3 linked regions of the Homo sapiens genome follow. The protein of the gene in region 3 purifies or fractionates together with the protein of the main gene of each other region. This does not show direct contact. Each region holds a gene or a part of one and is shown on either strand. Other genes may lie near its edges.

Region 1 (3,500 bases), about 190 Mb from region 3:
GGCCTGAATGTGAAACCGCCCCTACGCGATCCTGTGTGACAGAGGCTCTCTGGGTGGAGACATCCAGTGTGTTCCTAGAAGGCAAAGTTAGGTGATGAAATGGGGTGGTGCAAGCTGGGTGGTGAGGTTCTGCCGGTGCTGGCAAGGAAGTGAGAAGGGCGCGGGCAAGGCAGGGGAGGCCAGGAAGCTGGCTGGGAGCTCTGGGTTTCACCTGAATGGAGCTCCTTCACCAGGGATGACATGGTGTTGGTGATGGAGTCAGCTGCCACCAGCAGGTCATTGCGGAGGTTTCTCCTCGTACCTGAGGAGAGGCAGAGCAGATGGGGATGCCAGGGTGGGTGAGCGTGGAGAAGAGACGGCTGAGCAAATGCCTCAGTTCTGCCAGGCCCGAGAACACAGGTGTGGAACACCTAAGGGGAGATGGGGCCACAGCAGCTCCACCCATTCCCAGGCACACCGGGGGCAGGAGGCACCAGCCCACTGGTCCCTCTCCCTCTGCCCTCTCTACCTAGGGAGCAGCATCCTGTCAACTCCACGCTTTGCCGCCACCACACAATCCAGAGCTGGGTTCCAGAATAAGCATTCCACCGAGGTCTTCCTCAGCCTTGTGGGGGTGGGGCTGTACTCTCCACAACCACCACTACCACCTCCCCTTCTCACCTCCAGCCCCAGCAGGACTTCCCTCTGAATCCCCACCCAACTACTTAATACTGCTGGTCACCAGCTCCCCCGATGACTGTGACAATGGCGTGCATACTGTGCTTTCAGCACGGTCCCAGTTACAGTGCCTGTTACAGTCCCTTCTAGGCCAGGGAATTATTCCATCCAATTCCTCTGGAGGAGACAAAGCCCAAAGGACAAAGCACTTCCAATAATCCAGAAAAAAGGGCAGAGAACCCCAGGAGGCCTGTTCTTGGCACACATAGGAAGCCTGCAGCCCTCCCGCTGGAGACCAGCCCGTCTCATGAGAAGGGGCCAGCACCTGACTTATTTACACTGTCTGTCAAAATCTGATCATTCCAAGCAAAGAGCACAAAACAGAAATGGAAAAAACCTCAGCAGGAATCTTGTCCGTGTTTGCACATCCCTTCAGCTCCCCGCTGAACTCTGCTCCAGAAACTCACCTTGTGCGAAGGCCTCCTGCACGTCTCCCCCGACTCCGCTCAGCGAGTCCTGCGGACAGTGGGTGGGGGTGGAGCCGGCAGACGTGGAGCGCACTGGCATGGGCATTGGCCGGCCGCCTCCATGGGTGGGCGATGTATGTGGTGACCCTGTGGCCTGAGCCTGGAGATTCAAAGACAGAAAATACGTTATCTCAAGTACCTGACCTCTTTGAGGAAGGAAGAAAGTACTTTTTCTCCATCAACCAGAGCCAGCCAGTGGGCCTCAGTTCAGTGGTACAAGATCATACTTGAAAGGAAGGAGTTAGGCTGCTTCCAAGACTGGAGAGAGGAAGAAAAGGAAAAAAGGAAGGGGGCGTGCAGGGCAGAGAGAGAGAACATCCTAAGAACAAGACCAAGAATGGGAGGGAAAGAAGAGGCTGGCACAGAGTGGTGGAGACAGAGTGAGCTGCGTGACTGGGCCAGGGCTCTAGAAGGGCTTGGCTTGCAGGGCAGGAAGTAACATGCAAACAGCTTTCATTTTGTTTGCAAACACATTCATGTACATGTTCTCATTTGGACCCCTCCCCCCGCTGCTGCCGGCAACCTGTGAGTGGAAAGGACATACGTGTGTGTGTGTGTGTGTGTGTGTGTATGTATATATTTATATACGTATATATCTTTTTTGGAGACAGAGTCTTGCTTTGTTGCCCAGGTGGAGTGCAGTGGCACGATCTCAGCTCACTGTAACCTCCGCCTCCCAGGTTCAAGAGATTCTCCTGCTTCAGCCTCCCGAGTAGCTGGGACTACAGGTGTGCGCCACCACGCTGGGCTAATTTTTTGTATTTTTAGTAGATACGGGGTTTCAACACGTTGTCCAGGTTGGTCTTTAACTCCTGAGCTCATGCAATCTGCTCGCCTTCGCCTCCCAAAGTGCTAGGATTACAGGTGTGAGCCACCATACCAAGCCAGGGTATATATTTTTATGTCCATTTTATAGAAGAAGAAGAATGGAAAGAGACGTTGTGTCAGGCCACACAGCTTGCCAGTGGGAGGCATGGGAACAACCCCTTGACTCCAAGGGTGGCAGTGTGCACTCTGCAGGTTGTGACCCCACTTCCTGCAGGGCATGCTCTGAGCATGTGCGGAGCTCGGCTGCAGGCTGCAAGCGGGGCCATGGGGCCAGTCATGCCACATGCACTGCACATGTACAGCAAGGCTGTCCGGGGCCACCCCGCGGGGACGAGGTGAGAAAGGACACATGGTAAACAGAAACCAAGCTTTCCTTGGGAGGCCCTGGTATAGTTGTGGAGAAAGTTTGGAGCAATGGGATAAAATAAATAAAAGGAGAAAACTAATCAAGGGCCGCTCACTGAGATGTGGGCTCTGTAGCTCTTCAGCACAACGGGAACTGAGTGTGGAAGGTGGACTAGGGTTTTCTGTGGAAGCAAAACTGGAAAAAATAGAAGCCAAAGTGTGAGAGTGAATTCAAATGAAGACAGTTATCCTTCTTCTAGCTTTCTCAGCTAGAAACCCCATATACAAACAGAATTGGCCCTGAACAGGTGGACAGGCTGGACGCACGACACCCCACCGCAGTGCTTCAACCGTGTGGCCACCAAACTCAACAGAAATGGATTGTTTTCTGTGGTTCTTACTTTGAATCATTTGTGTGTGTGTGTGTGTGTGTGTGTGTGTGTGTGTGTATGTGTATTTTGAGAAGTTAAAAAAAATACAGAAAACTAAAAAGTACAACATAATTAACCACCCCAAATTGGTAACTTCATATTGTGTCAAATGTATTTCAACCTAAAAATATTGCAGAAAAATTTGCAATATTTTTGTCCACCAGTTCTTTCCTGTTCCAGTTCTTTCCTCTCCTCCCTTCAGAGGCAACCCCTATCAAAATTCTGCTGTGAAACTTTTAACCTATATGTGCATGTATAGCTATGAATAATAGATGGTATTTCACGCTTTTAAATTTTGCATGAATGGTATTGTACTGCTCATATCACTTTGCAATTTGCTTTAATCACTTAGCATGCTTTCTGAGATCTTTCCATGATACAAATAAATATGAACTAAATCAAAATGGATCATAGTAACTATAAGAGCTAAAACTAAAATGGATCATAGTAACTATAAGGGCTAAAACTATAAAATTTCTCTAAGAAAACACCCAAACCATGATATGTAAAAACAAAACCAAACAGATAAACTGGCTTTCATTGAAATTTTAAACTTTTTCTTTTCTTTTTCTTTTCGTCTTCTCTTTTTTTTTTTTGAGATGGAGTTTCACTCTTTCACCCAGGCTGGAGTGAAGTGGTGCGATTTTGGCTCAGTGCAACCTCCGTCCCCTGGGTTCAACCAATTCTCCTGCCTCAGCCTCCAAAGTAGATG
Region 2 (3,500 bases), on a different chromosome or scaffold from region 3:
GAAGAGTAGGGACAACAGTGTGAACTAGTGATAGTGACAGAGGCATATAATTGAGACTGGCTAGAATGAGAGTCAACAGGCCTGGAAATAAATGTCAAGTATTGTAAGTGCTAGATGGGAAGGATATTTTGGCCAACTAGGAGGGAAAGAAGGGATGAGATATCCTGTCCCATTCTGGAACAAATTCATACTCCTGGTGATTATGTAACTTCCATATCTTGCAAAACTTTATGGGAAAGCCATTATATAAGATTTACTTTGATTTTAAAAAAAGTTCTTACAGCTTGAATCCACACAGAAATTAACTGCTGCAGTTCCATTCTCGCCTGAGTTGACAGTTCCAAGATGCGTTCTCTGTGCTCATGGCTGGTGTAGGCAGAATCAGTAAAGTCCTCCATACGCTCCAAGATGACTTCCAATGTCACAGAAAGGTTCTCTTTGGACTGAAAATAAAGATTCTCCCGAAGAGCTTCAATATTCATCTGAGAACAAAAAGGACATCTATCCATCCATGTGAGTCAATATTCCCACCTGACCAAAATGGGCTGTAATTTCTAACAGTGCCCAGGAAAACACTAGCATTTCCTTTTCCCAAGCTGAGGGGAAATACAGCCACCAATGATATCTATATTCGCCACTAACCCAGAAGGATACATTGCTCAAAAGCCTTCAATATCCATGCAAAGCACCATTCCTAGAGTAATTAATACAATGACATTGCTATGAGATCAGTGAATACTAAGGCAGAAAGAGCATCATCCTCTAGCAACTGGCAGGAAAAATGAACCAGCCTCCAGGTAAAAGATTTGCATCTGAGAAAATGCCTAGGCAAAGTCCTGGAAGATAAGTTACACCCAAATATGAAATGTGCTGAGCCCAGGGGGAAGGATGGTGTGGAAGATGTGGGGTGTGAGAAGCACTGGGGAAGACATCCATTTTTCCTTTGTTAATTCAGCAAAGACTCTCCTAGTCACCTAACTGGTCTCCCTACATTTTGTTTAAAGTCCCCAACAGCACCTTACTGACCCAAACATCCTCTACCAGAGGGTCTGTATAATCTAAAATGTAAACCATCTGATACTGCCACCTCCCTCTAATAGTTCCTCGCCATCTATAGAGAATCAAGCCCAAACGTCTATGTAGTATAGCACAAAATCCTCTATGGCCTGTCTTTATATACTTCTCTAACAGTCTATCTCACCCCCTGAACCCCCTAACAACCTTTCACTTCAGCCATCCTGTTTGGAGTTCCTTGACTATGTGATGAACACATGCTCATGTGTGCAGTCTTTCTCTCTCAGCTTTCTACGATGCATCATGCCATTTCAACCCTGTAAAACACTACAGTCCATGAAATATGTCACACAGACAACTTGGGCCAAGAGGCAACAAGCGGTAATGATCATGATTATGGTCACAATGAATGTGATAATAAGGATACCTTACATTTGTTTAACACTTCAAAGTCCTTTCACAAATGTTATTTTAATTAATCCTTATGTGTGACCCATTTTAACATCATCCATGAAAATATCAAAGTTTGGGAAAGTCAAGATGCCATAGGAGAGTCCTTGCTTCCCCTCCTGCTCTTGGCCCAAGTTGTGTCAGGTGATCACTCCATCCTAGGTAGACAGAAACTTGTATTTAAGCTAGGAAAGAATACAGATAATAGTAAGGTATGGAATTTACAATGGGGATCTTCTCAGAGAATTAAATTTATTTTATTAATTTAAGAGAATTAAATTTGAGAATTTAAACAGAATTAAAACATAAAAATCAGTTATATTGGTCTCATACCATTTATGTTAAGGTTTTTTATTTTCCCTTTAGAGAGAAAATATACATGTTTTTAGACAGCAACTTAGTGGAGTTTTGTGGGGTTTTTTTAAAGAGGCTATTTACTGATATGGTTTCATAACATTTGTCCATATATTCATGGTACCAAATACAGCAAAGTACCCAGTTTCCCTCCATAGATTATACTCTCCATCAGAAAAAAAGCAAGATGCCAAAGAGATAATCATGGACAGTGAGACTGAGCCTATTTATAACAGCTCTGCCTCCAGCATGCCTGATGGCGAGAGGGCAGCAGCCAGAGCTGTCGGCAGCAGCCACAGGCAGAGCACTGCCCCTCCTTCACCTGCACTAGAAATGCAGCAGCAGGTGGTGAAAGATGTCTCTCACTTGACTTACTTGTTTCCCTAATTATCCTTTGACAACACATCTCCTCCTTCAGCATTTATAAAAAGGGAAGATTAGAAAAATAATCTCTAAGATCTCTTTCAGCAATAAAATTTCTAAGAGAAGGTTTGGTCTGTACAGTTTCTTTCCCCTCAGGAAGACTCAGTGGTAGGACTGGCATCATATAAACAAACCCAGAGGTGTAAAGTGAAAGGTCATGGACTTTGGGATTAGAGAATCCTGGGCCTAAAGAAGGGTTCTACCACTTACTAGCTCTCCTCCTCAAAAAAAAAAGACAAAAAACAAAAAAAAAAAAAACAGTATATAATTATATCCACCTAAAGGGCAGGTAGGGATTAAATAAAATATTTATTAAGAGCAAAAAGAGATATTCTTTCCATTACTGTCTTTTCACCCCATGTTCCTACTTAGACCTTCACACAATTAGAAATCAAAGTCCAGGGCCAGGCGTGGTGGTTCACGCCTGTAATCCCAGCACTTTGGGAGGCCAAGGTGGGCGGATCACCTGAGGTCCGGAGTTCGAGACCAGCCTGGCCAACATGGCAAAACCCCATCTCTATTAAAAGTACAAAAATTAGCCGGCTGTGGTGGTGGGTGCCTGTAATCCAAGCTACTCAGGAGGCTGAGGCAGGACAATTGCTTGAACCCAGGAGGTGGAGGTTGCAGTGAGCCAAGATCGTGCCACCACACTCCAGCCCGAGAAACAAGAGTGAGACTCCATCTCAAAAATAAATAAATAAAATAAATCAAAGTGCAGTAAAATGGAAAGAATGCCATTCTCATCATAGCCCTGTCTGTTAGAGAGGTGGGAACCTTTAGCATTTGGATAACTTCTCAGGGCCTTAGTTTTCTGATCTGTTAAAGGAGGGCATTGTACTAGATGACTTCTTAGGGCCCTCCCAACTCAGACACTGCTCTTACCCAGAAAGCATCTTCACCATGTCTATGACTTCTGATGAGAAGTCAGACTTCCTGGAGTCACACTGCCTAGTTTCAAATCCCAACTCTGGTACTTAGTAGCCAGCAAGTTAATATCCTTTCTGTTTCTCAAGCTCCTCAACAGTGTAATGGAAATAATAGCAATAGTTCTTTGAGGATTATATAAGTTCATATATTTAAAGCACTCAGAAAAGGGCTGGCACAGAATAAGGACTCAATAACTGTTAGTGTGTATTACTGTTGATTTTTAAATTTTAATTATTACTAATACTATTACTATAGTCTCAAAGTACCAACCCTCTAACACAGAGAAAAGCAGGAATTCTAGCAGAAATGATTTGCTGCTCACCATCATCCTA
Region 3 (3,500 bases):
TCTCACCTCAAAAAAACCAAGAAGAAAAGGATCTCTGCTGACAAAGCCAGGGGGGTATCTTTATCTCAGGGGCCCAGATGTGGGAGAAGGCAGAAGTCAAAGCCCATATGGACCACCCATGGAGCGTTTCATCCGAGGTTAAGAACTGCCCATCCTTTGTTCCGATGCTCAGGTAAAAGGAATTGTTACTGCTAGGCCAGCTCTCTATGGGAGGTGAGGCTGATTGCCAATTTCCATGGTGTAAATACTCCTGCAATGGCCAATTTCAAGCTATTATACCAATAGTGGAGCTGGGGACTCTGCTCTGCTCTGAAGTATAGGAGCAGGGAGCCTGTGTCCCCACACCAGGTCCTGAGCCAGCTGGCCTGCCCCAAGCTGCTTCCCTAAACCCACGGTCCATCTCCAGGGAGGGTGTTTCCTTCCCTCCCTGCAGCTGGCATGGTGACTCAGCTTCCCCTAAATTTAGGAAAAGGGGTGGAGGACAGAGACAGCTGCCCAGGCTCCTCTCCTCCTCGCTGAGCTCCCACCACCCTGTCAGCTGAGGGGCTGGCACAAGGTCCACCCAAATCCACAGTCTCTGGTCCACCCCTGTCTGGGCTCCACCTCCAGAATAAAGTCACCCAACAGGTTTTCCTGCCAAGTTCAGCCACCCTTGTGGAATGGGCATAGGCTTAGACCAGTGGGAAGGGAACCTCGCAGCTGTCTCTCCCAACATGGCCCCAGACATGCTGTCATTTCTTGCCTTTGTCTCCCCAAAAGCTCTTCTGAGTGTCCCACTTTCCTCTCTCCCAAAAGAGAAGCCCACTCTCTGATAGGAAAAGGAGCTTTGTCTCTCAGCACCTACTTCCCATACAGGGCTGGTCCTCAGCAAAGACTAACAGGAAAACTGACTTAGAAGGGGAACCTTGGCCTCCCCGCCCCAGCAGATAGAGCCTAAGGGCTTGAGGATACCCTCTCGGACTCTTTCATGGCCTCTAGGAGCGGGACCTAAGAGGGAATTTGAGTCTACAAAGGCCTCCCTCCAGCCTTCTCCACGTCTCCCCCAAGGAACTAAAGTCTGAGGACAGACAGCACGACAGGCAATTGCAGAGTCTCCTCTGTGTCTAGAAAGTCTGTACTCCAACCCCAAAGTCACCACCTCCTGGAAGCTTTCCCTGACTGCCCTAGGTGGTAAGCTTTGCTTTCCCAGGCTCTGGGATCTTGGTCCCACCTCTGTCACCGTACACATTACTCTCTAATGAAATCATCTGTCTGTGTATCTGTCCGCTCACTAGACTGTAAATTTCTTGAGGGCAGGAATTGCTTGACATTGAACTTTGAAACTTGGTGTCTGGCTTGGTGCCTATCAGACAATGAATGCAGGAAGGGATAACTGGCTAGCATATAGGCTCCTGAGAGCCTCCTCCCACCAGTGAAAGCAACATCTGCTTAGGGGTCATGGCTGGACCTGCACCTCCCCCCAGCAAGACCAAATAAGGAAGGGGTAGAAGGAGTCAGGACTGAATACCTCTTACCTGCTACCCTGTGGGCCACCAGCCCTTCTAAATTCAATGGCTCCTCCTCTGGAGTCCGGGAGGGGTCTGAAGTCGCTTCCTTTGGTGAGAGCAGAGGCTGAGCAGTGAGGCCAGGGAGAGAGGCTGGGGGTTGCTGAGGCCCTGGAGGGCTGTGGGTGGTCGGAAGGAAGGCAGGCAAGGAGGAAGAGGCTGGGCTCTTTGAATGGAAATCCTGGTTAGGCCCAGCCAAACATGGCTGATAGTCATAAGGTGAGTAAGACCTGCCAGGAGGGACAGACTCCAGAGAGGCCCGTGGGGCTGGCTCAGGGGTTCCCAACGAATGCCCACTGGGGATATAGCCAGATCTGGACTGGGTCAGTGGATGGGACTGACGGGAGGATCCAGAGAGGGGCTGGGAGGAGAGTGGAGAAGCCCCTGGCCAGGCCCCGGGGACACTCTGGGACTTGTGTAGTGGGGCAGCAGCGGAGGCTGGCTCCAGGTCCAGCATCAGCATATTGAGTGTTTCGATGGACTGTTCAATCTCCTGCTGGGAGGCTGCTCGCGGGAACTCAGGGAGACTGGGGATGGGGGTCTCTGCCAATGGCTGAGGGCTGGGCCTGCTGGCTACAAGACTCTCCAAGTGGGCTCTTTCCTGCTGGCGTGGAGGTGGGCGAGGCTGCTGCTGCTGCTGCTGCTGCTGCTGCCACGAATTCAGTCCCCTTTGCACAGCCTCCCGGCTGCTTCCCCCTCGGACCGGAGCTGGGGGCAGCTGGGGTTCAGCTTCCGAAAAGGATTGAGAGCGGAACATACCGCTGGGGTCATGGGCATAGTGGGAGGTGGTCACTGGCTGTGGCCAGGCTGGGTGGGGCCCCTCCCTCTGGTAGCCAGCTAAACCCTCCTGTGCAGAGTAGGAGGGCCGCATGGGGGCCGTGTGGCCAGCATGGGCAGGCCCCGCCCGGCTGGCAGACTCGTAGGGGTAGCCTCCTCCATTGACCATAGGCTCCATGGGGTAGGACTTGTCCAGACCGTTGGTCAGTGGGGACAGGGCCTCTGGGTAGCCCCCCTCACTGGTGTTGGTGACCCCGTCCAGAGAAGAGAGTGTGCCCATGCTGCCCGCACTGTGACCATCCTGGTTTGGCAATTCATCGTCCAGGATGTCTGTCTCCCGCTCAGATGCTAACGCCCCACCATTGACATGAACCTGGGCTGGGACAACGTGGCGTCCAGAGGAGGGCACAGCCGAGCCCCCTGCTGGGCGGGACCTGAGGTGCTGGGTGTGGTACATGGCGCCTTGCTTCTCTCGCTCTAAGCCAAAGCCACTCAGCAGGCGGTCCAGCTCCCGCTTCTCCTGGGGACTCAAGGCAGCAGTGGCACTGGAGGCCCCGGGGACAGGCTCGTCGGTCTTGTCGGTCTTGGTGGAGGCTGTGGAGTTGCCCGAGTCGCTGCTCACAGAAAGCGTGTGTTCCACGTGGTTGGGGGTGGCCGACAGTGTAGGACGTGTGGCATTAACAGCCCCGGTGCTGCCGTGCAGGGAGTCTTTCTTCTTCACCTTAGCATACAGGCTCCCATCTAGTGGCCCCTGCGTGTGTCCCACCACCTCTGCAAGGGACAGAGCCGGAGGGGAGACAACAGACAACAGACATTAGCGGGAGGCAGGGGTATCATCCACTCTGCCAGAGAAAGAAGCTAAGAGCTCCCATGCCCTGCATCCTAAAACCTCCTCTCACCACCCTGAGGTGGGGAAAAGGGGAGCTGACAGAAAGACCTCTACCCCAGGCTTTGGGGCAGAGCCTCACCAACACTCAGCTTCAGGGCCGGGCAGTGGAGCCCAACACTGAGCAGGAAGTGCTGGGGGCAAATCGCTCCAGTCCCAAGCCTAGCTCTGGCATTTCACCAGCTTCCTGACCAGAGGCATGAATAACTCTCTGAGCCAGCCTCCTGGTCCATAAAATGGGGATAATAATAGAATCTGGTTGAACCATCTGAAATTGCCAATATTCATTAAAT

The links. The genes of interacting proteins can lie anywhere in the genome.
Region 1: the proteins of TNS1 (region 3) and DTNB purify together in Homo sapiens (affinity purification with mass spectrometry; one large-scale study listed by BioGRID and IntAct). This does not show direct contact.
Region 2: the proteins of TNS1 (region 3) and CTNNAL1 purify together in Homo sapiens (affinity purification with mass spectrometry; one large-scale study listed by BioGRID and IntAct). This does not show direct contact.

Annotation. Positions count from the first base shown.
Region 1 is NC_000002.12:25,387,078-25,390,577, forward strand, and holds part of DTNB (dystrobrevin beta), read right to left. Parts: intron 1,285-3,500; coding exon 1,125-1,284; intron 302-1,124; coding exon 212-301; intron 75-211; coding exon of another isoform or gene 22-74; exon of another isoform or gene 1-21.
Region 2 is NC_000009.12:108,979,000-108,982,499, forward strand, and holds part of CTNNAL1 (alpha-catulin), read right to left. Parts: intron 483-3,500; coding exon 282-482; intron 1-281. UniProt on the Homo sapiens protein: May modulate the Rho pathway signaling by providing a scaffold for the Lbc Rho guanine nucleotide exchange factor (ARHGEF1).
Region 3 is NC_000002.12:217,845,996-217,849,495, forward strand, and holds part of TNS1 (tensin-1), read right to left. Parts: intron 3,093-3,500; coding exon 1,515-3,092; intron 1-1,514.